Regions from separate parts of the Homo sapiens genome. Here region 2 is linked to region 1. The links come from fine-mapping of genetic effects on gene expression. A gene starts in region 1. The other region holds a variant in brackets. All regions are shown on one strand. Distances are from middle to middle. Region 1 holds the start of PALD1 (phosphatase domain containing paladin 1). Region 2 overlaps PALD1 (phosphatase domain containing paladin 1).

The links. PIP is the estimated chance that this variant, and not a neighbour inherited with it, causes the effect.
Region 2: its variant is fine-mapped to the expression of PALD1 in testis (GTEx, PIP 0.99).

What each region holds. Positions count from the first base shown.
Region 1 is chr10:70,477,646-70,480,399 of GRCh38, forward strand. It overlaps PALD1 (phosphatase domain containing paladin 1), which reads left to right and starts at 1,122. Exons shown (of 20, transcript NM_014431.3): 1 at 1,122-1,414. RefSeq lists silencers at 738-807, 1,008-1,457 and enhancers at 2,452-2,754, 2,738-2,754.
Region 2 is chr10:70,545,672-70,548,679 of GRCh38, forward strand. PALD1 (phosphatase domain containing paladin 1) reads left to right here. Exons shown (of 20, transcript NM_014431.3): 18 at 1,635-1,775. Among named protein-coding and RNA genes, the nearest start is that of PRF1, 56 kb to the right of the region's middle. The variant A/G (reference allele first, on the strand shown) is at 1,395.

The DNA of each region.
Region 1 (2,754 bases):
AATGAGTGATTTCTCTTGTCTTCAGTTATTCTTAGGGGTCATGGGGAATGTGTTCCCCTCTCCCAGCCCAGCGCTCTCCAGCCTGACAGAGGTGGGGCCTACACTGCCTGCATCCTGGGGCAACCCCAGCTCGCCGAAATCCAGCTCCAGTCCTGAATGGGGGTGAGGCAGGTGGTAACAGGTGAGAAAAAAGGATTTCCCGAGTGTGGAGCAGCGAGAGGGAGGAAGTGACTCACCAACCACAACAAAGCCTATCTCTCCGCGAGGAAGCACAGCGAAGAGTGAACGCACGCACGTGGGTGCGTTCACCCACGTGCTCGCGGGGGCGTGCGGGGCCGTCGGAGTGGGCCGGGCTGGCTGCCGCCTAGTGCTAGTCCGCGCGTGTGGGGTGAGGAGTGGTGGGGGGGGCAGGCCTATGGTGCGGGTCACTGCCTGGAGCCGCATGATGGGTGGGGGCGGAGGGACCCCTCTCCATCCAAAGCTCTGCTCTGCTGTTCCCCTCTCACCTCTGGGGGCCGAGGGGCGCGTTTCCTTAGGACCCCGGGGCGTGGGAGAAGCCCCTGCTTGGGGGGACCGTCTGCTGTTTAGGGGCTCCCCTTCGACACGTGGGAGGCAAAAGTGCAGAGCGCACCATCATCCAGCTCCGGCCGCACTGCACAGCGAGGCCGGCCCGGAGCCCGGATGCTGGGCTCGGTCCCGCCGAGGCTCGGCCTGGCTGTAAAGCAGAGGGGGGCGAGGGAAGCCGGGCCAGCGGGTGTCGCGGGTAGCCGGCGTCCGGGACGGGGTGTGGCGCCCAGAGCGCTGCTGCCTCTCGCAGCCAGGAGGCTGGATGTCGGGTTTGGGTGTCTTCCAGAAGGAGCCGCACTAGCGACGAGGGAAGAGGAACTGGCTTCCCGGGCAGTCTCCCCCGCCCCAAACTTTTCCTCCTCGCGGAGGGTGGGCGGGCGGAGGGAGGAAGCGCAGCCGGGGAACGTGGCGCCCGCGTTCCTCCCGCCCGGGGGCTGCGGCTGGGCTGAGTGTGTCTTTAAATCTGAGCCCCCCGCCCCTCGCGGTGGGGCCGGGACTCGCGGTCCGGGCGGGGGCGGGCGCGGTGATTGGCGGCCGGGTCGGGTCCGCCCCTCGGCGTTGGGTAGCGGGGCGCTGGGGAGCAGCGCGGCGCGCACGGGCCGGGGCGCGCAGGTCCCGTCGCCGGTGAGCACGGGCTCCCTCTCGCGTGGCCTCGCCGGGTCCGCCTGGCCTGCCCACCTCCGGAGCCACCTCTGCCCCCGCATGGGCTGGCGAAGTTGGGAGGAGCGAGCTGGAGCCAGAGCGCGCGCCGGGCGCGCCCCGTCGCTGCCTGACTCGGCGCCCGCAGTTCGGGCGCAGCACGCCGGCCGCAGGAGCACGGATGCCCCCCGGAGCCGCGGGCTGGCAGGTACCGAAGTGTCCTGCCCTGGGGCTGGCGAGGGGAGGGCAAATCTGGAATCCCCCGGGCACCCCCCAGCCCGAGGCTGCTCCAGACACCAACTCCCCATCCTTTGGAGAGGTGAGGTCCTGGGCCTTCACCCCACACCCGCTCAGGATTGGTCCCTGGGAGGCAAGAGGGACTCACAGGGAGCAGTTGCTGGGTGGTTGTGTGTGTTGGACCCTGGGCTACCCCCTCTCCCGAGTTCCCTGGGTTTGGTGTAGGCATGGCCTGGTGACAATTCCACTTTTCATTGCCAGACCTGGGAGCATGGCCAGGAGCTAGGGTTTCCCGCGAAGTTAGGGGGAGATTGGGGAGAGGGAAGCCGCTTCATGACCGAGATGGGGTCCTGGGACTCATCTCTAGGGGGCGTGAGGCCCTCAGACCCAGGACGAGTCCAGAAGTCTCAGCGGGCACAGGCTTTGATTCTTGGCCCAGTCTGGCCCTCTTCCTCTGTAGGCCCGGGTCTCCAAGGAGAGTACGTTTTTCAGTTTCAGAGGGTTTTCCTGAAGGGGCAGTAACCTGTCAGAGAGAGAGTGGCCTATGGGAGACCCGGCTCCTGAAGGTGGCCGGGATGGTTGGAGCCCTTTCTCTTGGGTTGTCAGAGATGGGAGTAAAGCTTCATGGCCCAGGGAATCTTCTGGGCATCTCTACTCTCCCAGCCAGAGGCCCAGGAACCAACTCCTTGGCTTCTGGGTAGAGTAACCTGAACCCAGTGGCCGAGCACCTCTTAAATGCCAGGAAGGGCACTGGGCCGTGCCCCTGGAATGTGTGGATGGAGGAGGATTTGGAGGATTCTGTCCTCAGGAGGCTCAGCCCCTGGGGGCAAGACAGGACATAAACACACAAAGTTCCCCGATACAGGGTTTCAATACCAGTCCTGAACTGGTAATAGTGGAAAGCCAAGAGGCTACACACCATTAATTGCTATGTGAGTAATGTAGGCTGCGAGAGTGCCAGGGCAGCAGAGATCCAGTTCCATGCAAGCAAGCAAATGTGCTGAAATGTTCCAGCTCCATGCCCGCCCTTCCTTATTACCTTGCTCCAAGGGCAGGGAGCAGCAGGGGCGCTGAGGAGGTTCTCCTGCACTCATCCCCACCCACTCCCAGGTTTGTTTGTTTCCTGCTGGTGGATTTCTGAAATAACCCATTTGGTTTCTTGGCTTGGGCTGAGCACAGGACACTCCTAGTTGCCCTGTGGCTCCTGGGGTTTGGGGTCTAGAGCCAGCCTTGTAGGAGGTTCAGAGGTAAGCAGGAGGAAGTCCTCACTTCCTTTCTGAAGAGCCTCTGTCGCGGGGGGTTGGGGTAGGT
Region 2 (3,008 bases), 68 kb after region 1:
AAGCGATCTCCCCACCTCGGCCTCCCAAAGTGCTGGGATTACAGGTATGAGCCACTGCACCTGGCTGGGGTGGGGAATTATATCAGATGAGTGGTGTCCAACTCTGAGCGTCTGCGCAGTGGCTGGGGGCTGCTGCAGGTTAGGAGGAGGGTGGGGAGGCTTCTTACACCCCCTCCTCACCCCTCCAGCCCTAGTACGTGACAGCTATCTGTTTTATAGATCAAAGTTCTGCATGAGGCCTCATTTGAAGCAGGATTTCTACTGCTTAAAAAATAAGCACCTCGACCAGGCGTGGTGGCTCATGCCTGTAATCCCAGCACTTTGGGAGACTTAGGCGGGTGGATCACCTGAGGCCAGGAGTTCAAGACCAGCCTGGCCAACATGGTGAAACCCTGTCTCTACTAAAAATACAAAAATTAGCTGGGTGCGGTGGCAGGTGCCTGTAATCCCAGCTACTCGGGAGGCTGAGGCGGGAGAATTTCTTGAACCTAAGAGGCAGAGGTTGCAGTGAGCCGAGATCTCACCACTACACTCCAGACTGGGTGACAGGGCGAGACTCCATCTCAAGCAAAACAAAACAAAACAAAACAAAAATAAGCACCTTAGATCAGCTTAACATTCCATGGGTGCATTGGGGTGGTTTTTGTATCATGTAATACAAAGCATACAAAATGGCAATTTGGAGTCACAGTCGTGCATTTAATATGTCTTGAACATCTTAAATGACTTATATTCCCATGGTTTTTTTTGTAGAATTATTTCTAATGTAAACCACTTCTTGATTGTGGCTCTCCTGTGAGAACTGTGTGCACTCTGTGATGTCTTTGGCTGTGGCAGTCCCGTTTTCCTAGTAACTCTATTGATGTGCTTGGACACTGAAAATCTGTGTAGTGTGCAAGACATTAAGTTGTGGATTGGTGGGGCTTATGCCACAGTTTATCAACACTTGAAAATACTGGTACTTAATATCTTCTTAAAGAACAATTTGCCTCCAAATTTTAAGCTGGAAAGTTAATGGAATAACTTTCCAGCACTTTGGGAGGCCAAGGGTGTGGATTGCTTTAGCCCAGGAGTTCGAGATTAGCCTGGGCAACATGCCAAAACCCCGTTTCTACTAAAAGTACAAGATATTAGCCAGGCGTGGTGGCATGGGCCTTTAGTCCCAGCAGCTCAGGAGGCTGGGGTAGGAGGATCACCTGAATCCAGGAAGTTGAGGCTTCAGTAAGCCCTGATCATGCCACTGCACTCCTGCCTGGATGACAGAGTGAGACTCTGTCTCCAAACAACAACAACAACAACAACAATAAATGTCAATGGAATAACTAAAAAGGAATCATAATCCATGCCTTTTTTAGATATTCGGTACAAATTCAATGTCTGTGTACTGATCCTCA[A/G]CACAACCAATAAATCCCAATTGTGGAGGAAAAAGAAAAGCATCTGGGTAGCCTGGCCCCGGAGATGTTCAGGATCCCCCTGTCCTCCCTCAGTCTGAGAACTGAGGAGCAGGCAGGGCTCTCTGTTCAGCGCCTGGGCCTTAGGCCTGGTGTGGCCTTTTGGTGAGGGTGCAAGCCTGGTGCTTGGGCTGAGGGCTCTTACCAGTTTTATGTCTGCTCACCCCCCTTCTCTGGCCCCAGGTAGTAATGAAGGTGGTGCAGCTGCTACCCGATGGGCACCGTGTGAAGAAGGAGGTGGACGCAGCGCTGGACACTGTCAGCGAGACCATGACGCCCATGCACTACCACCTGCGGGAGATCATCATCTGCACCTACCGCCAGGTGAGCCCCCACCCCACCCCACCCCACCCTGCCCCAGCCACCCTTCCAGGTGTGCACAGCCAGGGAGTGGCTGATGTGGCTTTGGGGTTGCTAGGGGTCCTAGGGGCCCCTCCTTGGCTCGTGGTCACTTTTCCACCTTCTGGAAGTGGAAGTGATCCATGAGATGGACACATCCCCAGCCCCGACCCACTGGTATGGGTACCAGATTCTGGAGTGGTAGGGGAGATGCATGCAGGGGCCATGTTCAAAGCATTCAACAACTGCTGTGGCCCTAGGACCAATCAAGGATGTGGCCAATCAGAGTGAACACCCAGGAGCCCTGTGGTGCCAGGCGTTAACCCTCTTGTTTCTGGGTCCTGGCGGGGGGACCAGAGGTCCCAGACAGGAGTCAGGTAGTGGGTGGGTGGAGACCCTCAGGGTCTTGGGGTGGCTGTTTCACAACTAGCACGGAGGCTGTCATCTCAGGACGTGGGTATGTCTGTGCTGCCCTGGGGCTGGGGCTGGCTCCCAGATGGGGTGTTTTTTATCTGTAAAAATTGTTTTTAAATAACTCATTACATTATAAAAATAAAGTTTTGGCCAGGTGCAGTGGCTCACCCCTGTAATCCTAGCACTTTAGGAGGCCGAGACAGGCAGACCACCTGAGGTCAGGAGTCAGAGACCAGACTGGCCAACATGGTGAAACTCCATCTCTACTGAAATACAAAAATTAGCCGGGCATGGTGGCAGGCGCCTGTAGTCCCAGCTACTCGGGAGGCTGAGACAGGAGAATTGCTTGAACCCGGGAGGCGGAGGTTGCGGTGAGCCAAGATCGTGCCATTGCACTCCAGCTTGGGTGATAGTGAGACTCCTCAAAAAAAAAAAAGTTTCATAATAGTCCAGATTTCATGTAACCATCTGGATTTTCAGCCTATCTGGAAAGAATGTGCCCTCAAGCCTGCCTGGGTCCCCAATACTCCCTGCTCTGTTGCACTCGGCCCTACTGGACCAGTCCCATGACCACAGGCTAGTGTGGGCTCTGGAGTTTTTGGCCTGGGTCTCTGTGTGGAGTATTCACTTCTGTTCCTCTCTGGCCCATTGAATCTGATTGGCTTCTGGAACAGAGGCCGGTGCTGAGTGGGAGGGGCAGTGGTGGGAGCCGGTGGGTAGGGGGTGAGGATTCCATGGTGCTGAGAGAGGGCTATATGTACCAGCCATGTGTTCCCCACTGCTGGCCAGCAATTCTCAGAAACA